Linked DNA regions of Homo sapiens. The protein of the gene in region 1 purifies or fractionates together with the protein of each later gene. This does not show direct contact. Each region holds a gene or a part of one and is shown in the gene's direction. Other genes may lie near its edges. The genes, in order: YAF2, MGA, CSNK2A1 and BCORL1.

Region 1 (7,705 bases):
TGACATTTTTTTTTTTTACCAGTACATCTAAGCTCTTGTAGATCCAATTTTTAGTGGTGGAAACATTACTTGAGGAGGACTCAGAGAAGCATTGTCATTTGGATTGAAACTGAAGAGGCTCTGGGCAACTCACCAGAAATCTAAGGGACACTGTGTTCCTGAAAGTAAGTGTTCTACACCACGACCCTCTCAGCTTCTTCCTTCCTCTCTCTGAATTCTCTTCTCTTTTGATTTTGGCTCTAAGTTAAACCTAAGAGCTCTAATTTCTCTGTTATCTGTTATTTTCCTAGTGGTTTCTGAAATTCAGGGTAGAATCTGTGTTTGTATAGAACAGTGTGGAACAGGGTATTGTTACTAGAGAAGATATTGATTGCATCACAGAATATTAATATTTTTCCTCTCTGGTAATGTTAAAAAAACAAGATTAAAGGACTGCAGAACGGTGTTGAGAAGCAAAAGTTTCAGTAGTTGGAAGAAATAATTCTCCATAATTGACTTATTAATGAACAGGGTAATTTCCAGAGTAAGGTTGGCAAGTACTAAAGCCAAGACTGGATAGCTGCAGAGCAGAAGGATGCAGTTTGCTAATGATTTGTTTGTGTGACGCACAGATGGGATTTGAATCCTTTGGGTCAGACTGACCTTTGAACTGATTCTGCCTCATTGCCAAATGTTAGGCCAAGTCTAAGCCATTCTAGACATTTGAAAAACTTTTTTCTTTTTAGACCTGCAGAGAAGATTGAGTCCTTGTTCTACCTTTGAAGTCTTCTTTTTTTCTTTTTTCTTTTTTGAGATAAGATCTCATTCTGTTGCCCAGGCTGGGTTGCAGTGGCATCATCCAGGCTCACTGCAGCCTCGAACTCCCAGGTTCAAGGAATCCTCCCACCTCAGCCTCCCAAGTAGCTGAAACTACAGATGCACACCACCATGTGTGGCTAATTTTCTTATTTTTTGTAGAGATGGGGGATCTCTATGTTGCCTAGGCTAGTCTCAAACTCTTGAGCTCAAGTGATCCTCCTACCTTGGCCTCCCAAAGAACTGGGATTATAGGAATGAGCCACCATTCGGCCCCTTTAAAGTCTTTATTGGCAATATAATTTTTTTTCTTTAAATAATATTAAGTTCAAATTCTTTATGCAACAGAAGCCCATTTCCTTTGGCTATATCCATGGTAGGTCATGTCTTTCTAGAGAACGAAGTTACATTCATGGCATGTATTTCAAAATAAAATGATTTGTTGTAGCTTCAGTTCCTCAAGTTTTAATTTTATTTTAGATTTTGGGGTACATGTGCATGTTTGTTACTTGGGTATATTGCAGAGTGGTGGGATTGGGATTCCAGTGTACCCATTACCCAAATGGTGAACGTTATACCCAACAGGTCATTTTTCAGCCCCTCACTCCAAAATTTTTTACATTGTGCTTTTGTGAGAGAAACAGTAGTAAATGTCAAACTGACAGGAAATTTTTTAAAAGGAAACAAAATGCCACGGTGACACATTATTTTCAAGATGCTGCACAGTCTTTATATCTGAAGTTTCTTTTCTTTCTTTTCTTTTCTTTTCTTTTCTTTTCTTTTCTTTTCTCTTTTTTTTTTTGAGGCAGAATTTGAGACAGTCTTGCTCTGTCGCCCAGGCTGGAGTACAGTGGCGTGACCTCGGCTCACTGCAACCTCCACCTCCCAGGTTCAAGCAATTCTCATGCCTCAGCCTCTGTGGTAGCTGGGATTACAGGTGCCCGCCACCACACCAGGCTAATTTTTGTATTTTTAGTAGAGATGGGGTTTCACTATGCTGGCCAGGCTGGTCTCAAACTCCTGACCTCAGGTGATCCGTCTGCGTCGGCTTCCCAAAGTGCTGGGATTACAGGAGTGAGACACTGTGCCCAGCCTATCTGAAGATTCTTATAAGGCAAGAAATGTCCCAAATATAAATGCAAGAAACTTTAGGAAATTAAGGATCATTCTTGGCTGGCCCAGTGGCCCACACCTGTAAGCCCAGCACCTTGGGAGGCTGAGACAGGAGGATTTCTTGAGGCCAGGAGTTTGAGACCAACCTGGGCAACACAGTGAGATCTCGTCTCTACTAAAAATTAAAAAAATTAGCTGGGTGTGGTGGTGCATGCCTGTGGTCCCAGCTACTCAGGAGGCTGAAGTGGGAGGATCCCTTGAGCCCCAGAGTTCGAGGTTGCAGTGAGCTGTGATCATACCACTGCACTCCAGCCTGGGCAACAGAGTGAGACCTTGTCTCAAAAAAACAAAATTCTGAGTCATCAGAGAAAATGAAATATTAAATATTAAGGATAGTCTGTATGAGGGTGATAATCAATGTGTGATGATTAATTTAAGACTGGTGTCTTATTGGTACTTCATCTAGTAGTGGACAGTTACTTAATATTGCTTAATTCAGATAGCAAATATTTAGAAATGAAAATGATAGAATTATTGGTTTGGGTTTCAAACTGTGGTCTAAATGGTTCATACCAGGCTTTCAAATGTAACAGGTAATGTTACATTTTGTTAGAGGATATTATAACAGTCCTTTAGGTTTCTCATAGGTGTTATTTTAGAGAGCTATAAAAAAGATTTCACATAGTAGAAAGAGTGCTAGATGTTACACTAGTATGATTTTGGTAACCTGGGTTCATATCTCATTTCATATCAACCATTTCAATATTCAGCATTCAGCAAATGTTTATTGAGCATCTTATTTAAGGGCTGAGTTGGATACTAGACATACAGTGGTGAGCAAAATGGATTTTTTTGTTTCTTTAAAATTTTACAGTTTTGCAAATTAGAACCGCTTTAACTGTACCAAGCTCTATATGTGAGGTTTAGTGTTAGTAGATCTTTCCTTTATGTGTAGGCTGAAGAGGTGGAACTTCTTCATTAAAAATATATGTTGTTTATAACTGAACACAGTATTATTATTATGGTTAGGTAAAAAGAGTGAGTTATTTCAGCTTCTTTTAAAAGTAAGCTATAAAATCCACATTCTGAAAGAAGCTTAAACCAACTATCATCTGGTAGAAATCTTTTCAGCATCGTTGTTTTCTTGTCATACTTGCTTTATGTCTTCAAATTTGAGGTTTGGCACTGATTCTTCTAGACTTTTGGTGTAGGAATGGGAGAAAAAAATTGAGGACCATCTACATAAGTCCTTTTTAAAGAAATGCATGGTTCCTGAGCCGCCTCCTGTCTATCTGAGGAGCCTTTCTAGCAACCATTTAGTTGTTCAGAGACTCCTTATTCTAGGAGATTTCTTACTTGTTTGTTTTTTGTCCTGTAAGAGGACTCACACTGGTTAATTGTATATGGGTAAATTTTACAAGTGATTATTAGTGTTTGTGTAGTCTGGATATCAGAGTGGTTTTCAAAGTGTAGTCTGAGGGACACTGAGAGTCCCTGAGATCTTTTTAGTTGAAGCTTTCTATGAGGTTCACACTGTTTTTATAATAATTTGAAGATGTTATTTGCCTTTTTCACTGTGATGGTGCAGAGGCAGTGATGGGTAAAACTGCCAGCACCTTAGCATGAATCAAAGCAGTGGCACCAAATTGCTATCTTCATTGTAATATTCACCACCATGTACATGCATGCAGTAAGAATAATGTCAGTTTGAATTAAGAATATCCTTGAAGCAGAAAAATTTACTAATTTTATTACATCTCATATTTTTAAAAATATTCTGTCTGACCAAATGGGAACTACACATAAAGCACTTCTACTGTATACCAAAGTACAGTGGTTAAGGGAAAGCACATGTGTAGTTTGTCTTGCAAGCAGAGCTAGTCTTTTTGTCATAGAGCATCATTTTTACTTGAAAGACTACCTGAAATACCATAGTTATTCAGACTTGGATATTTAGCATATATTTTCTTGAAAATGAATATATTCAAAAAATATATCACTTCAAGGAAAACACTTGATACTATATGTTGCCAGTGATAATCATTCAAGTGAAAATTAGAATTTTTGAAAATTTGTAGCAACAATGAGCTTTAGAGTTTCTGTGTATAAAGACTTTTCTGAGAAGATTAGTGGTGGTATCAATGAATATAATTTCTGATATTTCACCATGAAATGTGTCAGCATTTGGAAGCTACGCATAACTCAGCAAACAAATGGTTCCTAGTTACCGATGTATGATTTTACAAAACTGTAATGGGTAATCCATCAAAGTACAAAATACCAACAGATTTTAAGGGAACACTGAAAACTTCATTGATGTGGTTTCAGATTTCATATTGCAACTAACCTTTGAGAAACAACTGTGTTTTTATGTAGTATCAAAGAATAACACCTATAGTTATCTGAAAATGCTATTCAACTACTTACCTCTTTTCAACTGTATATCTGTGAGAGTCCAGATTTTCTTAATATTTTTGGACCAAAACAACATATTGCAACAAATTGAATGCTGAGATAGATGTGACAATCCAGGTGTCTTCTACTAACCAGATGTTAGAGGTTTGCAAAAATATACGATGCCACTCTTCATACAAAATATCTTTGTTTTGGAAAATAATAAGTTTTTAAAATAAAAATATGTCATTTAATATGTGATGTATTTATTTTTTAAATGAACTAATATATTTAGATTTTTATCAGTTTTTATTTCTAATATAGTAAACATTGATAGATGACCCACATTAAGAAAAACAAAAAACAAAAACTCTTAAATTTTAAGAGTGTAAATGATCCTAAGACCAAAAAGTTTGTGAACTGCTGGTCTAGAGTTTATTGGCTTGGGTTTCTACATGCAATGGCTTTACTTCAGCAGGTATTCTTTTTATTTCCTTTATAGTGTGAGGCCTGATAACTAATATCCTAGTTGTTTAACTCAGTGGCCCAATCTCACTCATCTGTTGATGTCGCCTCCAAAGTATTTGATGTTCTTGGCCCTTTTTAAATTGAAACTCTACTTCCTTCATGTCTCTAAGACTCCTTTTTCATAGATTTCTGTGTATATCTCTGAAACCCATTTCTGCCTCCCCAAACTTGGCATCTGTATATTCTTTACTTTGTATGTGGCATAAACTCCTTTCTGGAACCTCAGCTAGAAACTGTCATTGTCTCAGCTTTGATTCTAATTTGTAGTCCTCCTTCATGTCCTTTCTCTGGATTGTCTCTTAAATCTATCCTTTTTCCTTTTATGTAGTTACAGTTCAGAAGCCCATATCACTTCTGTCATGAACTATTGGACAAATTGGTCTCTCCTTTGGAATGCTACTAACATGATCTTCATTATCTTTTTTGAAACCTATGTGATTATGTTGGTCCCTGTATATTTAAAAAAAAAATTGAGTCCTATTAGTGGCTGCTGAATAAAGGCTGAGATCCTTAGGATAGTGTTCAAGGCCATAATAATAATCTATCCCTAAACTACCTTCCTAGCTTCATTTCCTGCTGCTTATCCCAATCCTGTGCTGTGTCAGCACTGAATTATTTTTATCATATGGTACTTTTTCTTTCTCTTTCTTTCTTTCTTCTCTTTCTTCTCTTTCTTCTCTTTCTTTTCTTTCTTGAAGGAGTCTTGCTCTGTCGCCAGGCTGGAGTGCAGTAGCGCGATCTTGGCTCACTGCAATCTCCGCCTCCCAGATTTGAGCGATTCTCCTGCCTCAGCCTCCTGAGTAGCTGGGATTACAGACGTGTGCCACCATACCTAGCTAATTTTTTTATTTTTAGTAGAGACAGGGTTTCACCATGTTGGCCAGGATGGTCTCCATCTCCTGACCTCGTGATCCGCCTGCCTCAGCCTCCCAAAATGCTGTGATTGCAGGCGTAAGCCACCATATGGTACTTTTCAAAGAAGCCCTCTAGGATTACCATCCCTCCACCCCTTGGTATCATATTGATTCTATGTATGTAGAGTCAGTCATGCACTCCATAATGACATTTTTGGTGAGTGGGGGACCACATATACAGTCCCATAAAATGATACTATATTTTTACTCTACTTTTTCTATGTTTAGATACAAATACTTACCATGGTGTTACAATTACCTGCAACATTCAGTATAGTAACATCCTGTACACCTGTAGCTTCAGAGCAATAGGCTCTACCATATAGCCTAGGTATGTAGTAGGCTGTACCATCTAGGTTTGTATAAATACATTCTATGATGTTCTGACAATGAAATCACCTAACGATGCATTTTTCAGAACATATCCGTCATTAAATGATGCATGGCTGTATGTATATGTAATTATTCCTGGAGAATAAATATATTGTAGTATAATTGTCTAGACACTTATCTGCCCTACAGGGCAGAGACCGTCTTATTCACTTTGGTATTCCCAGAAGCTAATAAAATACCTGAAGTATTGTAGATATTTAAATGTTTTTTTTTTTTTTTAATTTATTTTTTTATTGATAATTCTTGGGTGTTTCTCACAGAGGGGGATTTGGCAGGGTCATGGGACAATAGTGGAGGGAAGGTCAGCAGATAAACAAGTGAACAAAGGTCTCTGGTTTTCCTAGGCAGAGGACCCTGCGGCCTTCCGCAGTGTTTGTGTCCCTGATTACTTGAGATTAGGGATTGGTGATGACTCTTAACGAGCATGCTGCCTTCAAGCATCTGTTTAACAAAGCACATCTTGCACCGCCCTTAATCCATTTAACCCTGAGTGGACACAGCACATGTTTCAGAGAGCACAGGGTTGGGGGTAAGGTCACAGATCAACAGGATCCCAAGGCAGAGGAATTTTTCTTAGTGCAGAACAAAATGAAAAGTCTCCCATGTCTACTTCTTTCTACACAGACACGGCAACCATCCGATTTCTCAATCTTTTCCCCACCTTTCCCGCCTTTCTATTCCACAAAGCCGCCATTGTCATCATGGCCCGTTCTCAATGAGCTGTTGGGCACACCTCCCAGACGGGGTGGTGGCCGGGCAGAGGGGCTCCTCACTTCCCAGTAGGGGTGGCCGGGCAGAGGCGCCCCTCACCTCCCGGACGGGGCGGCTGGCCGGGCGGGGGGCTGACCCCCCAACCTCCCTCCCGGACGGGGCGGCTGGCCGGGCAGAGGGGCTCCTCACTTCCCAGTAGGGGCGGCCGGGCAGAGGCGCCCCTCACCTCCCGGACGGGGCGGCTGGCCGGGCAGGGGGGCTGACCCCCCCCCCACCTCCCTCCCGGACGGGGCGGCTGGCCGGGCGGGGGGCTGACACCCCCACCTCCCTCCCTGACGGGGCGGCTGGCCGGGCAGAGGGGCTCCTCACTTCCCAGTAGGGGCGGCCGGGCAGAGGCACCCCTCACCTCCCGGACGGGGCGGCTGGCCAGGCGGGGGGGCTGACCCCCCCCCCCCACCTCCCTCCCGGACGGGGCGGCTGGCCAGGCGGGGGGCTGACCCCCCCACCTCCCTCCCGGACGGGGCGGCTGGCCGGGCAGAGAGGCTCCTCACTTCCCAGTAGGGGCGGCCGGGCAGAGGCGCCCCTCACCTCCCGGATGGGGTGGCTGGCCGGGCAGGGGGGCTGACCCCCCCCCACCTCCCTCCCGGACGGGGCGGCTGGCGCGGGCGGGGGGCCGACACCCCCACCTCCCTCCAGGACGGGGCGGCTGGCCGGGCGGGGGGCCGACCCCCCCACCTCCCTCCCGGACGGGGCGGCTGGCCGGGCGGGGGGCCGACCCCCCCCACCTCCCTCCCGGACGGGGCGGCTGGCCGGGCAGAGGGGCTCCTCACTTCCCAGTAGGGGCGGCTGGGCAGAGG
Region 2 (7,705 bases), on another chromosome or scaffold:
CATATTTGTTAGTGAATTTTAAAAACCAAAAGCCCTTTATAAACCAAGGATTTTTAGTTCTTTATCTTCCTCAGGTGGTATAAGCTTAGAAATTGACCCATAACTCTAGTAAGTGTTATGAGCTTTAATTTTAAAGTTAAATTGTGCAGAATCTGGATTTTATTTAAAAACATAAGAGGCCAGGCACATTGGCTCATACCTATAATCCCAACATTTTAGGAGGCCAAGGCAGGAGGATTGCTTGAGCCCCAGGGGTTCCAGACCAGCCTGGGCAACATAGCAAACTCCATCTCCACAAAAAAAAAAAAAAGCGTGCACCTGTGGTCCCAGCTACTTGGGAGGCTGAGCCTGGGAGTTCGAGGTGGCAGTGAGCTGTGATCCCACCACTGCACTCTAGCCTGGGTGACAGAGTGCGATGCTGTCTCAAAAGAATGAAGTTGAAGCATAATTTTATCATGAATGATCCCTTTAACAGGAATCCAGATTTAGAGAGATAACCATGTTTTTCTTTAGGCAAAAGTATTATCTCTTTAAATGTGCCTCTTGACAGTTGATACTCTATTTTTTACCATTCTAAATGTAAAGCTCCATAATGTCTGGCTGTTCTCAGCCATAAATAGTGTATTATGAAACTACAGAATTTCAGCAACTTTATAATCCAAATTAGACGTTATTTGAAGCAAGGTCAGATTCTGTGCCTTAATGACTGGGCATGGTGGCTCATGGCTGCAGTCCCAGCACTTTGGAAGGCCGAGATGGCAGGATCACTTGAGGCCAGGAGTTTGAGACTAGCTTGAGCAACAAAGCAAGACCCTGTCTCTGCAAAGAATAACATAATTAGCCAGGTGTAGTGACACATCCCTGTAGTCCCAGTTACTTGGAAGGCTGAGGCAGGAGGATCTCTTGAACCAAGGAGTTTGAGACTGCAGTGAGCTATGATTGAGCTACTGCACTGAAGGTGACAAGTGCAACCCTGCCTCTTTAAAAAAAAAAAAATATAGACTGGGCGCGGTGGCTCACGCCTGTAATCTCAGCACTTTGGGAGGCCGAGAACGGCAGATCACTTGAGGTCAGGGGTTTGAGACCAGCCTCACCAACATGGTGAAACCCTGTCTCTACCCAAAAATACAGAAATAAGCCAGGTGTGCTGGTGCACACCTGTAGTCGCAGCTACTCGGTATGCTGAAGTGGAAGAATCACTTGAACTAGGGAGGTGCGGAGGTTGTAGTCAGTCGAGGTTGTGTCATTGCACTCCAGCCTGAGCAACAAAGCAAGACTGTGTCTTAAAAAATATTATGAATACTTTTTTTTCCTACGTGTGTTAAAGGGGAATTTGGGTACCATGTTTCCATTTCCTGTTTTTCAGAAAATGCTGCTCAAATTCCAGTGGCTACTCCACAGGTCTCTCCTAACACAGTGAAACGTGCTGGACCTCGATTGTTGTTGATTCCAGTGCAGCAGGGTTCTCCTACTCTTAGACCTGTCTCAAACACACAACTTCAGGGACATCGGATGGTCTTGCAGCCTGTTAGGAGTCCAAGTGGAATGAACTTATTCAGGCACCCTAATGGGCAGATTGTCCAGCTTCTACCTTTGCATCAGCTTCGAGGCTCTAATACCCAGCCCAACTTACAGCCTGTCATGTTTCGGAACCCAGGTATAAAGTTCTTTTTTATGAACTTTTCTTTTGTTGAATCACTTGGCCATATGGTATGTTAATACACCAAGATTGTTTTTCTTCATCTCTTAAGAGTTACTTTTCCAAAAAGAAAAGCAAACATTGGAAGTCTTGATATGGGCAGTCATGATTTAAAAATTTCTCTCTTATTTTTTAAACCAGGGTCTGTGATGGGAATCCGGTTACCTGCTCCTTCCAAACCCTCTGAGACTCCGCCATCTTCCACTTCGTCCTCTGCTTTCTCTGTCATGAATCCTGTAATTCAAGCTGTTGGGTCTTCTTCAGCAGTGAATGTTATCACTCAGGCACCATCATTGCTTTCCTCTGGAGCTAGTTTTGTGTCTCAGGCTGGTACATTGACCCTGAGGATTTCTCCTCCTGAACCACAAAGCTTTGCAAGTAAAACAGGCTCTGAAACCAAAATAACTTATAGCTCAGGAGGACAGCCTGTTGGTACAGCCAGTCTTATTCCTCTCCAGTCTGGTAGTTTTGCCTTGTTACAGCTCCCAGGACAAAAGCCTGTTCCTAGCTCCATTCTTCAGCATGTTGCTTCCCTTCAGATGAAGAGAGAATCTCAGAATCCAGACCAGAAAGATGAAACAAACTCAATAAAAAGAGAGCAAGAAACGAAGAAGGTTCTACAGTCAGAAGGAGAGGCTGTAGACCCTGAGGCTAATGTAATAAAACAAAACTCAGGAGCTGCTACCTCAGAAGAAACTCTGAATGATTCCTTGGAAGATAGGGGTGATCATTTGGATGAAGAATGCCTTCCAGAAGAAGGTTGTGCAACTGTCAAACCATCTGAGCATTCCTGTATCACTGGGTCACATACAGATCAAGATTATAAAGATGTTAATGAAGAATATGGGGCTAGGAATCGTAAGAGTTCCAAAGAAAAAGTGGCTGTTCTGGAAGTTAGGACCATTTCTGAAAAAGCCAGTAATAAGACAGTCCAAAATTTAAGTAAAGTACAGCATCAAAAACTTGGTGATGTGAAGGTGGAACAGCAGAAAGGATTTGACAATCCAGAAGAAAACTCAAGTGAATTTCCAGTCACCTTTAAGGAAGAAAGTAAATTTGAATTGTCAGGAAGCAAAGTTATGGAGCAGCAATCTAATCTACAGCCAGAGGCCAAAGAGAAGGAATGTGGAGACTCTCTGGAGAAAGACAGGGAAAGATGGAGAAAACATCTGAAGGGCCCCTTAACCAGGAAATGTGTTGGAGCTTCACAGGAATGTAAGAAAGAGGCAGACGAGCAGTTAATTAAAGAAACAAAGACATGTCAGGAAAATTCAGATGTGTTTCAGCAAGAACAAGGCATCTCTGACTTACTTGGAAAAAGTGGAATTACTGAAGATGCCAGAGTTTTGAAAACTGAATGTGATTCTTGGAGTAGGATTTCTAATCCTTCAGCCTTCTCCATTGTTCCTAGGAGAGCTGCAAAAAGCAGCAGAGGGAATGGACATTTTCAGGGTCACTTACTGCTACCTGGAGAACAGATACAACCAAAGCAAGAGAAGAAGGGTGGGAGAAGCAGTGCTGACTTCACTGTTTTGGATTTGGAAGAAGATGATGAAGATGATAATGAGAAAACTGATGATTCTATTGATGAAATTGTGGATGTTGTTTCTGACTACCAGAGTGAGGAGGTTGATGATGTAGAAAAGGTGGTGAGCCCATTTTTGTTGTGACTGAAACCTAAAGGATTTAAATGATTTATTAAAGACAGAAGCTTTTTCAGAAGAGCACTAAGGCATAATACATTTAATTGGATGCCTAGGTTTAAGATTATGACTTAAATGGCTTAGTAGTTCTTTAGGCTGTGTCAATCAAGCATCATTTATTGAGCTTTTATTCTTTGAGACTTGTCTGGTTTTATGGGAAGGCTGGCTTAAATATTTGGGGGATAGGTGCTTGAGAGTCCCTACCGAGTTAGATTTTTAAAATCCCGAAACCACTACTCCCATTTGACCTCAGTCAATTTCTATGACGTTTTCTATGTGAGGTGGTTGTAGCTTCTCTGGTAGATGTTAATCAGAAACTGGGAATGGGTGACCTTAGAACTAGAGGAGAACTTATTCACTTGCATATAGAGAGATGTTTTTGTTTTTGGAGAAAAACTGGAAAATACCATCATATTCTAGTACCATTTTGCCTTGAGTTGCTTTTATATCCAAAAATTAAATATTTAGTCTCTGGAATTTATATTCTAGACTTTGGTCTTCGTCCTTTGTAATATGACCTTTATGGCCTATTTTTATTATTTTCCTGAAGTTTTTTTTATAGGATTCCTATTTAGGGTTGTTGTATTTACTTAAATAAGTAACTGTCAGGTATTGATACAGTGCAGGAGTTGTACAAACGTTTTCTGTAAAAGGCCAGATAGTAAATAGTTTTAGACTTTGCAGAGAGCTAGATGGCTCTCTGTTGCGACTAATTGACTGCTGTTGTAGTATAAAAGCAGCTGTATTCCATTAAAACTTTAGTAAAAAAGTCCAGGTGCGGTGGCTCACACCCATAATCCCAGCACTTTGGGAGGCCGAGGTGGGTGGATCACCTGACGTCAGGAGTTTGAGACTAGTCTGGCCAACATGACAAAACCCCGTGTCTACTAAAAATACAAAAAATTAGCCAGGTGTGGTGATGGGTGCCTGTAATCCCAGTACTCAGAACGCTGAGGCAGGAGAATCGCTTGAACCCGGGAGGCTGAGGTTGCAGTGAGCCCAGATCGCGCCATTGCACTCCAGCCTGGGCGACAAGAACAAAACTCTGTCTCGGGTTAAAAAAAAAAAAGAAGTTGTTAGTGGGCTGTGGTTTGCTGACCCCTGACATAAGGTCTGATGTAAAACATGGGGAGATCATAACCAGCTGCCTGTGGAGTGCCCTAAAATCTAAACTGTGTCCTTCTTTTCAGGAGCAGATGACAGCCGTCTGCACTGATTGTCATACAACTGCTTGTTTTACAATCTCACTTCCTTGAGATTCATTCTGCCTCTGTGTTATCTGGTCCTTTTCTGTTATTGCTTAACTGCTTTATGCACATAAAATAAGACAAAAAGATTACTGTTTTAAAAATCTAAAATGTTGAAATATTTTATTTTAGCGATGGAGTCTTACTCTGTCGCCCAGGCTGGAGTGCAGTGGTGCGAACTCAGCTCACTGCAACCTCCACCTCTGGGGCTCAAGCAATTCTCCTGCTTCAGCCTCCTGAGTAGCTGAGATTACAGGAGCCTGCCACCGCCCCAGCTAATTTTTGTATTTACGTAGAGATGGGGTTTCACCATCTTGGCCAGGCTGGTCTTAATGTTCTTATATTGGTTATTTGAGTACCTCCATTGTCTCATTTATAAAGGAGGATCTTGCTCTAAAATTGGATGATTCTGTATTCATTTGACTTATACCTTCTCTCCATAGCCTAATCTTTTTCAAGAATGGATGTAAATTCATTGACTTTAGGAGTTATATTGCTGATTTTTTTGTGTTTTTTGCAGTCTCACACTGTAAGTCAGCCCAAGTTAACATGAGACCAAAAAACAGTTCAACTTTAAAACCAGTGAAAACTATTACTATTAGTGGAACTTACATAATAGAACCTTTAAAGTTTTTTTTTTTTTTTTTTTTTTTTTAACAGAGTCTCGCTTTGTCGCCCAGGCTGGAGTGCAGTGGTGCCATCTCGGCTCACTGCATCCTCTGCCTTCTCGGTTCAAGCGATTCTTCTGCCTCAGCCTCCCGAGTAGCTTGGGATTACAGGTGGGCACCACCATGCCCAGCTAATTTTTGTATTTTTTTAGTAAAGACAGGGTTTCACCATATTGGCCAGGCTGGTCTTGAACTCCTGACCTCAGGTGATCCACCCACGTTGGCCTCCCAAAAGTGCTGGGATTACAGGCATGAGCAACTGCCTCCGGCCTGAAGTATCTTAATCATACAAGGAGGCATTGCTTGAATGTACTAATAGGGAATTTGACAAGCAAACAAGTTATACTGACTTTTTTTTTAAAGGTCATATTAAGTGATCTCTAAAATCTAAAGTCTACACTGTTTTTATTTGCACATCTCACACCTACGTTACCTTTATGATTAGCATTGGAATACTGTGAGGGAAGTTGTAAATAGCTTCTTTAATTTAAATCTTCCTTGTGGAAGTTATTGGAATATTATTTAGAAATACTGCAGTTATGCCAGGCGCTGTAGCTCTCGCCTGTAATTCCAACACTTTGGGAGGCTGAGGCAGGCGGATCACCTGAGGTCAGGAGTTTGAGACCAGCCTGGCCAACATGGTGAAACCCCATCTCTACTAACAATACACAAATTAGCCAGGTGTGGTGGCACAGTCCTAGAGTCCCAACTACTCGGGAGGCTGAAGCAGGAGAATCGTTTGAATCCCGGGAGGTGGGCTCATTTACTATGTTTCTGGCATAGTAAACACTTTTTTTTTTTTTTTGAGGGGGCACAGAAATGTTGCAAGCAAATACTATTTGTAAAGGTGGACTTAAAAAGATCTGCTTATCCTATATATCCACATAACTCTAGTGTTACATAAAATATTTAGCAAGTTTCTGTGACAGGTGCTCAGTAAACACTTTGACTCCTTTTTTGGTATAATAAGGAAATACAGCAATCGTGGGCTTTTTTGAAACCTGAAATTCCTTACAAGCTCTCATTTTGTGGTTTTGAGAGAGTTGCAGGACTAGGCTGTATCCTATTTCTATACCTGCCTGTGTATGCTAATGTGTGTTGATTTGTGGGCATCTGATAGGATGTTGGTCATGAAGCCCCCTTAAAGTGGCACTTGAATTTTTCTCCTTTCTATATTTCTTTCACCAAATTTTATTTTACTGTTATTTAATCTTAAGATTTATGAAACCTTAATATATCTGTGCCTGAATTTTGTCCACTAGAAATAACACTGAAGCATCAGTGCAGTCCTTTGAGGATGCTGTTAAGTTTAATTATGTCTGTTTATTTATTTTTTATTTAATTTGTTTTGAGACAGTCTTACTCTTGTCTCCCAGGCTGGTGTGCAGTGGTGCAGTCTTGGGTCACTGCAGCCTCGAACTCCTGGCCTCAAGCAATCCTCCCACCTCAGGTTTCCGAGTAGCTGTAATTATAGGCGAGCACCACCATGTCTGGCTAATTTTTGTATTTTTTGTAGAGACAGGGTTTTGCCATGTTGCCCAGGCTGGTTTTGCACTCCTGAGCTCAAAACGATCCACCTGCCTGGGCCTCCCAAAGTGCTGGATTATAGGTGTGAGCCACCACGGCTCACATATATATATGACTTATAGTTCTTGATTGTTAATTCTAATGATATGTTATCTTTCTGTCTTAATTCCTTATTATGACTAACAATCTTAGGATTATCAGTACTCATGATATAACATGAATGTCTGGCATTAGTTGGTTTTATAAGGGGAACAAACATTTGAAAAGTTTAGGTGTGCTTGCCACTCAATACATTATTTACTTTTATAATGATGTATTTCAGAATAACTGTGTAGAATACATTGAGGATGATGAGGAGCACGTGGACATTGAGACTGTAGAAGAGCTCTCAGAGGAAATTAATGTTGCTCACCTGAAGACCACAGCGGCCCACACACAGTCATTCAAACAGCCGTAAGTCTTATTTCTCTTTGGATTGTTGTTTTTGTAGTTTTGTAACCAGAAACAAAATGAGATGTTCTGTTCAGGAGCTCTGGGTAACTCATCTGGTTCCTTCTTCCTCTAGCTTTTTTTCTGATTAGTATAGATGAGGAGAGGAACTAGAATTTGGGTAATTAATTTTCTTTGGTCGTTGGTAGGAGGCAGTGTGTAAATGTGAATAACATGCTTTTGGAGCCCGATAGACTGGTATTATAAAATATTAGTTTTGCTAGTTTGTAGGTATTTAACCTTGGGCAAATCTTTAATCTCTCTGAACCTCAGATTCTTTACCTATGAAATGAGGAAAATGCCCCCATTTGAAGTGTTAAATGAGGTAGTATGTGCAACTAGCATAATAACTGATATAAGTGGACTACTCAA
Region 3 (7,865 bases), on another chromosome or scaffold:
CCACCCGCCTTGGCCTCCCAAAGTGCTGGGATTACAGGCATCAGCCACCGCGCCCGGCCTACTAATTTTTATAAGACATAAAAATTTTTATTCTACTAATTTTTATAAGACATACATCTCCAGCTGAACGCAGTGGCTCATGCCTGTAATCCCAGGACTTTGGGAGGCCAAGACAGGCAATCACCTGAGGTCAGGAGTTCAAGACCAGCCTGGCCAACATGGTGAAATCCCATCTCTACTAAAAATACAAAAATTAGCTGGGCATGGTGGGCACCTGTAATCCCAGCTACTCGGGAGGTTGAGGCAGGAGAATCGCTTGAACCCAGAAGGCGGAGGTTGCAGTGAGCCAAGATGGCATCATTGGACTCCACCCTGGGCAACAAGAGTGAAACTCCATCTCAGAAAAAAAAAAGACACACATCTCCTAATTATTTAAATGTGCTTTTTAAATGTTTTCTGATCAAACTACTGTTTGTCTCTTGCTTTGTATCGTATAACAGAATGTCAGGGCCAGATTTCTATGTCAGGACATAATACTGTCTTCATTCTTTTCAATGGCTTTGTCACTTGCTGTGTGACATTGGACTAGTTGTTTAACCTCTCTGAGACTTGGTGTTCTTAATCTCTAAAATGGGGATTAAAAATGTACTGGCCACAGAGAGCTGTTGTGAGGATTAAATGAGTTAATAGATGTAAAGCATCTTGTACAGTGTCTGACACATATTAAGTGCTCAAAAATGTTAGTTCTCATTGCTGTGAATAGCCCCATGTCTGGCTGTACCATAATTTCTTTAACCAGTTCCATGCCTACGATTACTTATGTGATATAATGTTTGCAAAGGTGGCCACAACAATTCCACCCTCCTTATACACATGACTCCTTGCAGTATGATTTGATGTTTTTCTCATGAAGAGATGGAATCTATTTCTACTCTCCTTGAATCTGAGCTGGCCATATGACTGCCTTTGATCGATATAATACAGTGAAAATGATGCTATATCATTTCTAAGCCTAGATCTGAAGAGATCTTGCTGCTTTTGTTTTCTTTCTTCTGGGGGCCGTCATGTAAGTAAGCCTGAGTTAGCTTACTGAAGAAGCAACATGGAGGAGAACCAAGGCACTCAAGCCAACAACCCCAACCAACTGCCAGACATGTGAATGAGGCCATGGAGTTCTAACCAGTTTGCTGGCCTGTTCACTGACAGCAAACGTAAGAGTAAGCCAGGAAAGACCACTTGGAGCAGAAAAGAGCTGTCCTGGCTGAGACATGTCCAAACTGCCAATCCACACAAACATAAAATATTGTTGTTTTAAGCCACTATATTGTGGGGTGATTTTGTTAAGCAGCAATAGAAAGCAAATACACTTAGGTTCTTAGTGCATGATTAAAACTTTTGCCTGTAATTCTAGCACTTTGGGAGGCCAAGGCAGGGGAACTGCTTGAGCCTAGGAGTTCAAGACCAGCCCTGGCAACATAGCAAGACCCCATCTGTACAATAATAATAATAGTAATAATAATACTACTAAATTAAAAATGAGCCAGGCATGGTGGTGCATGTCTGTAGTCCTAGCTACTCAGGAGGCTAAGGTGGGAGGATCGCTTAAGCACAGGAGTTCAAGGTTATAATGAGCTGTGATCATGCCACTGCACTCCAGCCTGGACAACAGAGCAAGATCCTGTCTCAAAAGAGAGAGAGAGAGAGAGAGTCACTCTAATGGCCCAGGTTGAAATGCAAGCTCCATCTCCGGCATGTGACCTTGGGCATGGCCTGTGATCTCTGTGAACCTGAGTCTCCTCATCTGTACGGTGAGATACTTTTGGTTTCTACCTCATCAGGTTGACATGAGGATTAAGTGAGATGATGAACATTCAGTGTGTGGCACAGTGCAAGTACTCTCAACATCTTAACTCTTGCTTCTGCTGCTGTTGTTTGCAGAAAGACTAGCCTGAGAGGTGTGATGTGGGGGATCAGAGACAGTAAGAGTTAAGGATAAATGTTAAGTCTACAACTAGGTGAACACTTGGGATGGGAAGCCTCTTGAGACCGGAGACCTACATGAGGCTGGCGTAGTAGACGGCAGGAGTTGGGTTTCAATTATGTCCTGCATGAGTATGAGGGTTGTATATGTGTGCCCAGGTGAGCCCTCTGAATGAAGTCATGGATAGAGGCCAGAACTAGGAAGAAGAATGAAGAACTAATGCTGTGAGAGAGGCTGAGATTGGAAAGGCATGAAGGCTAAGCAATGGGAAATATCCTCACTACACTCAGATGAAAACCCAGCTTCCTTATCATGACCTGAATGCCCTGCCCACCTCTCCCACCATATTTCTTCCTCTTCTTCCCTTTATTTGCAGTGCTTCAGCCACCATGGCCTCCTTCTTCAAACTTGTGATGCTCTTTCCTGCCTTGGGACGTTTGCACTTACTGTTTCCTTCTCAAAGGGACCTTCTGAACCACTCAAGCTAAAGCTCTATACTTCACAGCTACTTATCTTTTCCTTTCGTAGCACTTATTGCTACCTGAAATTACTTTGTTTATGCATTTGTTTACCTGTGCATTACTTGCTTCTCACTTTAGAAGGTAAGCTCCACCAGTGAGCAACTGGTGTATGTCTTCCTCATAACACATCCCCAGTACCTAGCACAGTGTCTGGCTCATAGCAAATGATGAATTGTTGTGAGTTAAACAAATGTGAATACAGTTGGGAAAAACAAAGCCACAAGAGCCAAAAAGATACGTTCGAGAGGTAGGTAGAAGGGTATCATTTCCTGGAAGATGGCTTCCCAGAAACTTTGGGATTATCTTGTATAACCTCCTCAGTCCACAAGTGGGGAAATTGAGGCCCAGTTACAGGACACTGAGAGAAAAACTGTTGTGGGTTCCCAGGCAATTGGGATCAGATGTCACAAGCTGTCTAGCAGATGAGGTCCAGAGAAGGCCACAGCCACCTCCCTGAGGCCATCACTATAAGTCTGCAGCCACCACCAGCCCTAACCCCACATGGGGAAGAGGTGCCTCTTTGGGAGCAGAGGTGCTAGTCAGCTGACAAACTGTGAAGGCAGGGCTGTGGAGGGTGGAGAGGCCCATTCCTGAGACAACCAGCTATTCTGAGACAGTTAGGGATAATGGTTGGTACTGAAAGAACCTGGCCTCCTCACCCTCGTTCCAGTGCTCACACCTCTGTCCCACCAGAGGTGAGACTAATACTTGAACTCCTTTCAGCAACTCTTAGACGCTTCAGCTTTTATCAGGGCCTGCAAAGGAGAGGTTGATCATCAGATGGAGCCCTGTCCACTGGGGGCTCCCAGTCTGATGGAGGAGACAGACTGAGGTCCTCAGGTTACTGACTGATAGTGTCTGGGTTGGAGGGAGTTAAACAGAGAGGAGACCCCTAGAGGAAAGGATCCCTGAATTAGTTCAATCGGCATACAGAAATTATCCAGTCCATGAGGTGACAGTAAGAGAAGTAACTGCCAGTGTAAAGGGAGGGAGGCAACACAGCTAAGTTCCAGGAATTGTTTGCAGTCTTGTGGGTGGAATCTTCCGGAATTTGAGAAGAGAGTGGCAGAATAGGAGGCTGGAAAGGAGGGTTTGGCCAAATTATGGAGGACTCTGAATGTCAAGTGAAGAGTTTGGGCTATCTTTGGTGCATAAAGAGGTCCATGGGAGATTTTTGACCATAGGGAGACCATGATGAGCTCTGCATGGTAGAAAGTGCTTTGTGGCTGTTTTGGGGAGGTAGCTCGGGCAAGGAGAGCAGGGGTGGGAGGCAGATAGAAGGAAAAAAAAACACTGTATTTTGGACGCACAGCTCTTGGCAGGACTCCTGTAGGAGGAAGGAATTGGGCCTTGGTCTCTTGAGAGCTAGTATCCTCACTTCTCAGACTCCTGCGCCATGCCCTTCCTAGGGTCCAACTTTCATTCACTTCTTCCGAACTCCAAGTTTGAATAGAAAGTGTTGCTGAAACCCTAATTTAAAACGAGGGGTCAGAGCAAAAGAGACTTCAGCTCCCAGAATGCTTGGCTCTACAGCTCTGCAGGTCGCGCATGGTTCTTTTCAAGAAAGGGGGGCCAGCTGGGTGAAGTGTGGGAAACCTGGGTACCGCCATCTTAACTTGGGTCAAACCAACTGTTCACCTAATGGGAGGTTCGTGTTCTCTCTGTTGTCACTTGTTAACACTATTGAAATAAAATGCGCTTAACTATTGCAAGTCTCCTTATTCTGCTTTGCGTTGGGGATTCCTTCCATTTTGCACCCTAGGCCAGAACTGAATCCCTAAGGTTACAATAGGACATCCCAGCATGGCCGCATTCAGAGAGATTCCTCTGGGGGCGGAGTCGGAAGCTGTCTCGCCCCGCCTCCTGGTAGGAGGGGGTTTCCGCTTCCGGCAGCAGCGGCTGCAGCCTCGCTCTGGTCCCTGCGGCTGGCGGCCGAGCCGTGTGTCTCCTCCTCCATCGCCGCCATATTGTCTGTGTGAGCAGAGGGGAGAGCGGCCGCCGCCGCTGCCGCTTCCACCACAGGTACCTAGGGAGCAGCCAGGCGAGGTCGTTGGCGGGTGGGGTGGGCCCAGGATAGGGCAGCGGAGCGCGGCCGACCCTCACGCTTCCAGCAGACTCCTGAGCGGCCCGTCGCCTTCCCCTGCCCCCACCTTCACACATAAACCAAGCGAGGCCCCTGCAGCCCATCGGGGAGGCCCAGGGGCCACCCCTCAGGGCGGAGGGCGAGGTTTGGGGGCAGAGGCCGATGTGAGGGTGGGAACCGGCTGCCGGAGTCCAGCTTATTGCAGAGGAGAGGACTGAACTGGGTGGGGACTAGGGGACAACTTGGAGGAGGGGGTCGTCAGAGGGGGAAGGGAACTTGAGGGGTGGGGCCGCAGGGGGGTGCTGGGGGAGGGTGCGGAGGGAGTGGTGCCTGCTGGGTAGTGTGCAGTGAACCCTCCCGCGAAACTGGGCAGCTGGAGTAGGGGCCTTCTTAGGGTCCCTCTGGGCGGGGCTGAGCTTCCCACCTGCAGAGTGGGTGCGAGGTGGAGAGAACCCCAGGCGGGGTTGCTGGGGCGAAAGGGGGAAGGGACCAAGACGTGGGGCAGAACGTCTGGAGTTGGAGTTAAGGACTAGTTAGGAGCCTGGATAGAAAAAGAGGTATGGAGAGAAAGCTTGGCTAAGGGTATACATATGTTGGTGACCTTTTGAAAGAGTAGGACTTTTCAATTTTGTTTTTCGTTGTGTGTTTTTTGCAGTGTTGGAACATTGCTAGATTAAGCAGGTGATGGGTGGAGCTTCTGTAGTTTGTTTTGGGGAAGCAGAGTCAGGGTCAGGAGAAGTTGCATCTTGGCTATTGCTTTGTGTGGAGGAAAGAGTTTTGAAAAGAAGGTGGCAAATTATTTGGGAAGACTTGATTACTTTTCAGCTGTTTAATTCTACGAGAATGGGACATGGGGAGAGGAAATGAAAACTAAGAAGAGAGGCCGGGCGTGTGGCTCACGCCTGTAATCCCAGCACTCTGGGAGGCCGAGGCGGGTGGATCACGAGGTCAGGAGTTCGAGACCAGCCTGACCAACACGGTGAAACCCCGTCTGTACTAAAAATGCAAATATCAGCCGGGCTTGGTGGCGCGCGCCTGTAATCCCAGCTACTCGGGAGGCTAAGGCAGGAGAATCGCTTGAACCTGGGAGGCGGAGGTGGCAGTGAGCTGAGATCCGCCACTGCACTCCAGCCTGGGCGACAGAGCGAGACTCCGCCTCAAAAAGAAAAAAGAAAACTAAGAAGGGAAGATTTTTCCAAGAATTGGAGACTTCATTCCATCTGAGGAGTGCAGTGTAGGCCCAGTGGTTAAAAACCAGACTGCCTAGGTTCTCAAATATCAGGGCCATTGCTACTTAGCTGTGTGACCTAAACTCTCTAAGCCTCAGTTTTCCCGTCTGTAAAAGGGGGATGATGGTATTTTCTAGCTTGTGAGTTTACGGAGAAGAGTAAATAAGACAATTTGTGTCAAGTGCTTACTACAGTGTCTGGCAGGTAGTAAGTGTAGTAAGTAGCTTTTACCTGTCACTGTAAAGGGACTAGCTGGTATATTTGGGGCTCTTCTGTTCTAAGTAAAATTTATAGTCAAGAATTTGACTGTAGACAGGGCTTTAGAGTAGTATCTTTGTAGTTGTTGTAGGGTTTTGTTGTAAGTCATTTGGCTTTACTGGCTTGGTGGACCTGGGGCTGAAAGTCCAGTACCAATACTAGTTCTCCTCCGTGGTATTCTCAAAAGTTCACCTGCAGTCTTAGCAGGGCATGTTTTTGTCCTTCTGTGACTTTGAAATACTTGGCTTTGGTTTGCTATTGCGGGAGGGTGTATGACTTGAAGAAAGAATGCAAGATTGGAAATTTGCTTAGATTGATTAATCAACTGATTATACAGTTAGGTCCCCGTGAGGTGACTTTTCTTTAAAAATAAAAAAAAGCCTAGTTATGTACTCCTTTGTGGAATACAGAGAAGAGAAATACACATTTAAGGAGGAGCATGGGTTAGTTTCTAAGTAGTTATGGGTGAAGTGCCTTGCAATTTGAGGATGAAACAGGTGGCAACTCCTTTTCCATACTGCGCGTCCTTTTCCTACTCACTCATCCAGAGTGAGTCCTTGTTTTTACTATTGTCTCTATCTCTGAACATACATCTTTGTGTCACATAAGTAAAGACATATGTATGTATGTATATATACTTTACTTCACATAAGTAAAATATATACATCTTTACTTCACACTCTGTTAAAGAAAGGGATGATTTTCTTTAGGAAGTGAGTTTAAACCCTTCCATAGGACTTGGATTTGTAGTAGGCAGAATTACATCTCCCTCTTCCCAAGGTGCCATACCTTGATCCCCAGAATCTGTAGCTATCCTGTGTTACATGGCAAAAGGAACTTGGCAGGTGTAATTAAGGTTAAGAATCTTAAAATAGAAAAATTATCCTGGATTTTCTGGGTGGGCCGAATCTAGTCACTTAAGTCCTTAAAAGCAGAGAACTTTCTCCAACTGGGATCAGAGAAATGGGCAGAAAAGGAAATCAGAGATTTGAAGCATGAGAAGGACTCCATTTGCCTTTGCTAGAGAGGACCACATGGAAAGTTTATCAGAAGGAATGTGGGCAGCCTCTAGTGGCAAAGACCAGTCCCTGGCTGACAACCAGAAAGAAATGGGGACCTCAGTTGTGCAACCAGAAGGAACCTGAATTTGGTCAACAACCTGATTGAGCTTGGAAGTGAATTTCCCAGTTTCCACCAAGGAATGCAACCTTGAGACACCTTGATTTTTGGCCTCGTGAGACCCTAAGCAAAAGACCTAGCTAGCCAAGCCCACCCAACTTCTGACCTACAATAACTGTGAGATAACAAATTTGTGTTATTTTTAGCTACTACATTTGTGGTAATTTGTTATGGCAGCAGTAGAACACTAGTATAGATTTTGGTACCAGGAGTGGGGTACTATTACCTAAAAATGAAAGTGGCAGTAGATAAAGGTTAGAATTGTTTTGAGGGGCATGATAGAAAAGGCCTGGAACACAGGAGGATCGCTTGAGCCCAGGAAGTCAAGGCTGCAGTGAGCGGTAATGGCACCACTGCACTCCAGCCTGGGTGGCAGAGTGAGACCCTGTCAAAAAAGAAAAGGCCTAGGACATACTTTTAGTAGCAATATGGATGTTAATGACTCTGCTAGTGAGGGCCCAGACAGAAGTGAGGTCTTTCTTATTGGAAACTGGCAGAAAGGGGATCCTTGTTACATAGTAGCAACTAAGTTTAGCAGAATTGTATCCTATGGTTATATGGAAAGCCAAATTTGCAAGTGATGAACTTGTATATTTAGCTGAGATTTCCAAGCA
Region 4 (7,705 bases), on another chromosome or scaffold:
GCAGTGGGCATTCTGGTGGTCAGCGCTTTCTCACCTCATGAGGCTAATTCTGATTTGAAGTGAGATCCTTATGAAGTATCAAAGGAAGTTGAGACCGCCTAGCATAGTCTTGAGAGTTGGTGACACCTGCCTCACGTGTGTATTTTCAGTTATCTGTTCCCCAGAATATTTGGTTGACCAAGATGTGCCATTGCCTGATCATGCCCCATACCCAAAGCACTCAAAATGGCCTTCAGAATTTATATTTGGCTTTCATAACCCTTGGTCAAAGAGCTGTGTGTGATGGCTGCAGTGCCTCTCTCATTTTCTTTTTTTTTTTTTTTGAGGTGGAGTCTCACTCTGTCGCCCAGGCTGGAGTGCAGTGGCGCGATCTCGGCTCACTGCAAGCTCTGCCTCCCGGGTTCACGCCATTCTCCTGCCTCAGCCTCCCGAGTAGCTGGGACTACAGGTGCCGCCACCAAGCCCGGCTAATTTTTTGTATTTTTAGTAGAGACGGGGTTTCACCATGTTAGCCAGGATGGTCTCAATCTCCTGACCTCGTGATCCGCCCGCCTCGGCCTCCCAAAGTGCTGGGATTACAGGTGTGAGCCACCTTGCCCGGCCGTTTTTATTTTTTATTTATTGATTTATTTATTTTGAGACAGAGTCTGGGGCTACAGGCGTATGCCACCACACCTGGCCAATTTTTGTATTTTTAGTAGAGACGGAGTTTTACTATGTTGGCCAGGCTGGTCTCGAACTCCTGACCTCATGATCCACTCACCTCGGCCTCCCAAAGTGCTGGGATTACAGGTGTGAGCCACTGCACTCGGCCGCCTCTCTCATTTTTAGAGAAGGCACTGCTCCTTCATGCTTGCTGGTGTTTTTTTGTTGTTTCAATCCATTGACTGTTTAAATTCAAATATACATCAGATAAATCACCAAGACACAGAACAATATGGCTTTCCCTGGGATTCAAGATCTGACGTTTCTTGGGTAAATCTTAGAAATGTGTGTGCGCATATAGGGGAGTATTGGTAATTTGAAGGGAAAAGGAATGGAAGTCTTTGTGTTTATCTACTTTGTTCTTCTGTTCCTAACTGGAGAAGTATATACTTGTCTGAGGTCAAGGTTAGCAGAATAGACCTTTTTATTTTCTTAAGCCATTAGTGCCTGATAGCTTAATGTTCTCTGTACTGAGGAACAAGTTAGAGATGGGCTTAAAAGGAATTTAATTTTAGGATAAAAAGAGTCAAGACCATGGAAAATGAGATGAAATTCTTAGGTGCTCAGGAAGAAAAGTGTTTTCCTTTACATATGAAGCATGTCCTCAGATGATCACTAAGAGATGATCTAGGGAAAGGCAGGGTGATGATAATGATTTGCGTAAGTATTCATTGGCAGGTCATGTTGACCTAGTTATAAGTAGTTGAGACTTTGATGCAGAAATCTGGACTAGAGCCTTCAAAAGACCAGCGGGGCCGGGTGCTGTGGCTTATGCCTGTAATCCCAGCACTTTGGGAGGCCGAGGCGGGTGGATCACCTGAGGTCAGGAGTTCAAGACCAGCCTGGCCAACATGGCGAAACCCCGTCTCTACTAAAAATACAAAAAAATTAGCCAGGCATGGTGGTGTATGCCTGTAATCCCAGCTACTGGGGAGACTGAGGCAAGACAATCAGTTGAACCCGAGAGGTGGAGGTTGCAGTGAGCCGAGATTGCACCACTGCACTCCAACCGGGGTGACAGAGCAGGACTCCGTCTCAAAAACAATAAAATTAAATAATAATAATAAAAGAGGCCAATAGACAAGTTACCTTAGTTCACCATCTACTGTAAATCCCTGCCAAGAAAGGAGCAGGAAGTAGGCTCAAAATCTGATTTTCCCTCCATCTTGTTTTTTGTTTTTGAGATGGAGTCTTGCTCTGTTGCTCAGGCTGGAGTGTAGTGGCACGATCTCGGCTCACTGCAACCTCCGCTGCCTGGGTTCAAGTGATTCTCGTGCATCAGCCTCCTGAGTAACTAGGATTACAGGTGTGCACCACCATGCCTGGCTAATTTTTGTATTTTTAGTAGAGACAGGGTTTCACCATGTCACCCAGGCTGGTCTCAAACTCCTGATCTCAGTCTGTCTGCCTTGGCCTCCAAAAGTGCTGGGATTACAGGTGTGAGCCACTGCACCCAGCCAGATTTTCCTTCCTTCTAAACCTGTGCCTAGTGCTTAAGAGGACATTTTTTTTTTTTTTTTGAGACAGAGTTTAGCTCTTGTTGCCCAGGCTGGAGTGCAATGGTGAGATCTGAGCTCACCGCAACCTCCGCCTCCCGGGTTCAAACGATTCTCCTGCCTCAGCCTCCCGAGTAGCTGGGATTACAGGCATGCGCCACCACACCCGGCTAATTTTGTATTTTTAGTAGAGACGGGTTTTCTCCATGTTGGTCATGCTGGTCTCGAACTCCCGACCTCTGGTGATCCACCTGCCTCAGCCTCCCAAAGTGTTGAGATTACAGATGTGAGCCACCACGCCCGGCCTAAGATGACCTTTTAAGTGTTGTCACTTTTGATCTCATCCACCCTTTATTGTCACCTTCTTGCTACAGTCTAGGCCGCTACAGCCTAGACCATGCTATCACTGGTTTCCAAAATGTAATCTCACCTTATTTAAAAATCATTTTCCTTGGCCCTTTACAACTTGTAGAATTTAGGAATTTGGGGTACAAAGCTGTGCCTGGGGTTCAACTCTTAAAGTGATGTTTTAGAGGCCTGCCAGCTTTGGCAGCTGCAATTGAGGACTGTAGAACAGGAGGCATGGGCTTGCGGCTGGCCCCAGGTGGCCGTCTCTAGGCAAACCTACAGCTAAATGTGTCTGCTTGCCTGCTTGCATCCCTTCTAGGATTAATTCATGCCTTCATTCAACAAACATTTATTCAACATAATGAGAGCAAACCAGTAGTTCTAGTACATTGGTGGTGAGTGCCCTAGAATTGCATGTCCGGGTCCAGTGGGAGTCCAGATGCAAGATTGACAAACCTCCTGGTGGGAGAATAAGGAAAGGCTTCCCAGAGGCAGTGGCATTTGAGCCCAGGCTTGAGGAATGAGTAGGAGTTTGAGGTGAGAGCTGGTATTTCCCTGAGACAATAAGAGCACAGTGTGGCTGGGCACGGTGACTCACGCCTATAATCCCAGCACTTTGGGAGGCCGAGGCAGGTGGATCACCTGAGGTCGGGAGTTCGAGACCAGCCTGACCAACACGGAGAAACCCCGTCTCTACTAAAAACACAAAACTTAGCTGGGCGTGGTGGCGCATGCCTGTAATCCCAGCTACTCGGGAGGCTCAGGCGTGAGCCCGGGAGGCAGAGGTTGCAGTGAGCTGAGATCGCACCATTGCACTCCTCCAGCCTGGGCAACAAGAGAGAAACTCTGTCTAAAAGAAAGAAAAAAAAAAAAAAAAAGCACAGTGTGTTTGGGGAAGGTCCAAGTTGGAATGAAGGCAATCTTGGGGTACTGTGGGACTCGAACCAGGGAAAGTCTCCCAGGACTGGAAGGTAAGGAGCCTGGTGTGTGCTGGGTGGTATATTTCTCTTACGGGTAGTCTGGGCCCAGCAGGAACTGAAGAGGGTCCGGTTTGACAGTGGTGCTAGCCCTTAATAATTAGGGAAATGGCCCAGAGGGGTCATGGCCATTTCTGGTTTAAGTTCCACAAAGCCTTGAACATAACAGCTCTGCCTCCTCTGTGGTGGGAAGAAACAGCAGGATTGATTTTCAGTCCTGACTGAAGCCTGCTATGACCTCTGTTCCCTCCTGCCGCCCGCCTCCGCCAGCTGCACCCTCATAACCTTGCCTGGTTGACCCAGCTCTTCCCGGGCCCCCTCCCCTGCAAGTTACTCCTGTCCCAGGCTCTTCTCTCAATGGAGCAAGTTAATGTTTGCTTAGCTCTGCCCACCCCTCTTCTCAGAGGATTTGAAACACGGCTGCATGACATTTTGCAGCGCCTTCGGGGCTGGACTCAGGTGTGGGTATGGCTGGAGTGGCCAGGACTGCTGTTGCTTGGCCTGGTTCTGTGGTTCTCTGGCAGCTGCCTTCGACGGCAGGGATTCTGCTTTCGAGGTGTCATTTCAGGCAGGGTGGGAGCTTGCAAGGGGAGAATGAGGATGCAGCCCACTCCCTTTTGTATGGCCAGGAGGGGAAAGAATGTAAATAAATAGCACCTTCCCATGTGGGGTTGCTTGGGGGAAGTGCTGCTTGTTTCCCCTTGAGTACTCCCCCTAAAACCGTCCCTGGCAAGTCTAGTGGGAACACGCTTCCCCCTGGCCCAAGGCTGGGCATAGGTCTCGCTTTTGTGGTCTCTTAGGAGTTGATGTGAAAGTATGTTTTCCCTTTCCTTCAGGCCCTCCCTCCCTCCCCTTCCCCGAGACCACCCTGACTGCATCTAAAGCCCTTGCCTCTCCTTACAGTCATTTCTGTTTGTCACCAACAGTCACTTCCAGCAGTGGAGCCCTCCCACTTCTGCCAGTCCAACTGCCTTTTAAAGGGAACAAGCCTTTCCCCCTCGGTTAGCCCCTTCTGGATCCCTGAAAAGATGGGGAGAGGCCCGTGGTGATCCCCCTTGCCTTTTTTGCTTCTCTTGCCCCAGGTACAATTTTGGAGTCCCTGTTTCAGTGGGAGGGAGGAAGTTAGCAGGGCCCTCCCCCTTCTTGTTGGGGTTGGCTCCAGCAACCTGACTGCCCTTTGGCTAGGGTGACTGGGGAGGCGAGAGCTGGCTTCTTCAGGGCTGTCTTCAGGAGCTTGGGGTGAGCCTCTAAAGAAGGGAGGCAAAAATTAGCCAGGCGTGGTGGAGCATGCCTATAATTCTGGCTATGCTGGAGGCTGAGGCAGGAGAATTGCCTGATTCCAGGAGGCGGAGGTTGCAGTGAGCCGAGATCGAGATCGTGCCACTGCACTCCAGCCTGGGTGACAGAGCGAGATTCAATCTAAAAAAAAAAAAAAAAAAAAAAAAAAAAAAAAAGAGGGAAAAAAGGAAAGAAAGAAGGGAGGTCACCTCAGGCACAGTGTATTTCCCCAGGGGCACACAGAGCAGTCCTGTGCCTTGCCCACCCAGGAAACGCACTGCAGCGTCTATGTTGGGGTTTTATTCTTTAATCTAAACCTCCTCCTTGGCCACTCCCACCCACAGCTCCCAAGGGCAGGGGGCAATAGTTTTTTTTGGTTGTTGTTGTTGTTGTTTTGAGACAGGGTCTCACTCTGTCGCCCAGGTTGAAGTGCAGTGGTGGGATCTCGGCTCACTGCAACCTCCGCCTCCCAGACTCAAGCGATTCTCCTGCCTCAGCCTCCCAAGTAGCTGGGATTACAGGTGCCTGCCATCACGCCTGGCTAATTTTTGTATTTTTTAGTAGATATGGAGTTTTACCATGATGGCCAGGCTGATATTGAACTCCTGACCTCAGTGATGCACCCACCTCAGCTGGCCTCCCAAAGTGCTGGGATTACAGGTGTGAGCCACCATGCCTGGCCTAATAGTTCTTGCTGTACTTAAAATACCAGGGGAGGGAGGCAGTCTGATGCCACCCTCTCCCTTTTTTTTTTTGTCAGGATGTACAATTTTCTATGATGCTTACCTGAAATTTGGAGAAGACTTTAAACAGGGGGAGATGCATTTGAGTTTTCCTCCTTTGGGACCCAGCTCTCTGGCCTTGAGCCCTTTTCTCTGGGACATATGAACCTGAATTTGGGGTCTGAGGCTTTTCGGACAGGAGAGAACAAAGTGGTGCTGGGAGACTGATGGGGGGGCAGGGAGGGGTGCTGGCAGGAGATAGGATGTAGGCAAGGATAGAAGGAGGGTAGAAGGGAGGGTGTTGCCTAGAACTCTAGAAAAAAGGGGGCAGTGTCTCCTGGAGGGAAAAAAGTAGTATTCTTAAAATGCCTCTCAGCACCCAGTGACCTGGTGGCCTCCAAGTGGTATCATCACCAGTGCTAATAAACATGTCTCTGCTCTAGGCAAGACAGGAGGTGAATAGGTGACGATTCAGATTTAGACCTGAAAACACAACAGGGGTTTATTTGTTTTAGAAGAGGATTACCCATATGACACTTTCAGCCAGCTGCCCTTAGAGACTTAAAATAAGATTGTATTTAAAAGAAAAATGGGTTTTGCATGCCTTTTGAGGCATTCAGTGGTTCTCATGTCTCCCCTTTGAGCAATGCCCTGTACATCCTGGATGGTCATTTTGGCAGGTAAGCTCCAGGGAAAAGGTAAAAGTGCTAGGGTGTCCACACTCCTGGCAAGAGCCCTAGAAAACAGGGTAAACAGTCCAAAGAGGGGGGTCTAGTCAGACTGGGCTCTGGTAGGGACTTGCAAAGCTAGGTGTGGCGCCTCCGCTTTGTAACCAAGAACCCCCAGTTCCTTGTAATCCCCCTCACAAGTTACTACAGGAAGTGAGGTAGGAAGGTTTTATGGGGACCCAGGCAGGCAGGAGGCATTCTGGGGAAGGTGGTGTTGGCTCAAATCCTGGGCCTCATGTCCCTTCTCTGGTTGTATCTTCCATGCTAGAAGAGCACCTCTTTCTGATGAGGAGTCAACGACAGGCGACTGCCAGCACTTTGGATCTCAGGAGTTTTGTGTCAGCAGCAGTTTTTCCAAGGTAAGAGGCTTTATGGAGCCACGTGCTGTCCACCAAAGGATGGAGCTGAGCTGCCTGGGAGGTGTGCCCAGCCTGCCATCCCAGGAAGTGGGCAGGAAGGGACAGGGTCTCTCCCAGGAGTTGGTATTGGTGGGACACAAATTGGCTGGCTGCCCTCTGCGTCTTCCGAGACCTGGTTGGTCGAGTTGCAGAGAAGACCAGCAGTTGCCTCTCGGGCCTCAGGACACTTGCACCATCTGCAGGGAGCTGGCTGAGATGTGCATGCTATCCTGTCGTTGCAGGTGGAGCTCACGGCAGTTGGAAGTGGCAGCAATGCCCGGGGGGCAGACCCAGATGGCAGTGCTACAGAAAAACTTGGGCACAAGTCAGAAGACAAGCCTGACGATCCCCAGCCAAAAATGGACTACGCTGGGAACGTGGCAGAGGCTGAGGGCCTCTTGGTGCCCCTGAGCAGCCCAGGAGACGGGCTCAAGCTTCCCGCATCTGACAGCGCCGAGGCCAGCAACAGCAGGGCCGACTGCTCCTGGACTCCACTCAACACCCAAATGAGCAAACAGGTTGACTGCTCACCCGCCGGAGTAAAGGCTTTGGACTCTCGGCAAGGTGTTGGAGAGAAGAATACTTTCATTTTGGCAACTCTGGGAACTGGAGTCCCTGTGGAGGGGACCCTGCCCCTGGTTACCACTAACTTCAGTCCTCTGCCAGCCCCTATCTGTCCCCCTGCTCCCGGTTCGGCCTCTGTGCCCCACTCTGTTCCAGATGCATTCCAGGTTCCCCTCTCCGTCCCTGCCCCAGTCCCCCATTCAGGGCTTGTTCCAGTCCAAGTTGCCACTTCGGTTCCAGCTCCTTCCCCTCCCTTAGCACCTGTCCCGGCTCTGGCTCCAGCGCCACCGTCAGTGCCCACGCTCATCTCTGACTCGAACCCCCTTTCTGTTTCGGCCTCAGTCTTGGTGCCTGTGCCAGCTTCTGCTCCCCCTTCAGGCCCGGTTCCCTTGTCGGCTCCAGCTCCTGCCCCGCTTTCAGTCCCAGTTTCAGCTCCTCCCTTGGCTCTCATCCAGGCTCCTGTGCCCCCTTCAGCTCCGACCTTGGTTC

What was found.
Region 2: the proteins of YAF2 (region 1) and MGA purify together in Homo sapiens (affinity purification with mass spectrometry; 6 studies listed by BioGRID and IntAct, with this or other methods). This does not show direct contact.
Region 3: the proteins of YAF2 (region 1) and CSNK2A1 purify together in Homo sapiens (affinity purification with mass spectrometry; 8 studies listed by BioGRID and IntAct, with this or other methods). This does not show direct contact.
Region 4: the proteins of YAF2 (region 1) and BCORL1 purify together in Homo sapiens (affinity purification with mass spectrometry; 6 studies listed by BioGRID and IntAct, with this or other methods). This does not show direct contact.

Annotation. Positions count from the first base shown.
Region 1 is NC_000012.12:42,228,073-42,235,777, reverse strand, and holds part of YAF2 (YY1-associated factor 2), read left to right. Parts: exon of another isoform or gene 1-4,556; intron 4,557-7,705. UniProt on the Homo sapiens protein: Binds to MYC and inhibits MYC-mediated transactivation. Also binds to MYCN and enhances MYCN-dependent transcriptional activation. Increases calpain 2-mediated proteolysis of YY1 in vitro.
Region 2 is NC_000015.10:41,747,271-41,754,975, forward strand, and holds part of MGA (MAX gene-associated protein), read left to right. Parts: intron 1-1,366; coding exon 1,367-1,657; intron 1,658-1,840; coding exon 1,841-3,345; coding exon of another isoform or gene 3,346-3,348; intron 3,349-7,166; coding exon 7,167-7,297; intron 7,298-7,705. UniProt on the Homo sapiens protein: Functions as a dual-specificity transcription factor, regulating the expression of both MAX-network and T-box family target genes. Functions as a repressor or an activator.
Region 3 is NC_000020.11:540,331-548,195, reverse strand, and holds the start of CSNK2A1 (casein kinase II subunit alpha), read left to right. Parts: upstream 1-4,405; 5' UTR 4,406-4,524; intron 4,525-7,865. UniProt on the Homo sapiens protein: Catalytic subunit of a constitutively active serine/threonine-protein kinase complex that phosphorylates a large number of substrates containing acidic residues C-terminal to the phosphorylated serine or threonine.
Region 4 is NC_000023.11:130,006,056-130,013,760, forward strand, and holds part of BCORL1 (BCL-6 corepressor-like protein 1), read left to right. Parts: intron 1-4,452; exon of another isoform or gene 4,453-4,608; intron 4,609-6,522; coding exon 6,523-6,613; intron 6,614-6,894; coding exon 6,895-7,705. UniProt on the Homo sapiens protein: Transcriptional corepressor. May specifically inhibit gene expression when recruited to promoter regions by sequence-specific DNA-binding proteins such as BCL6.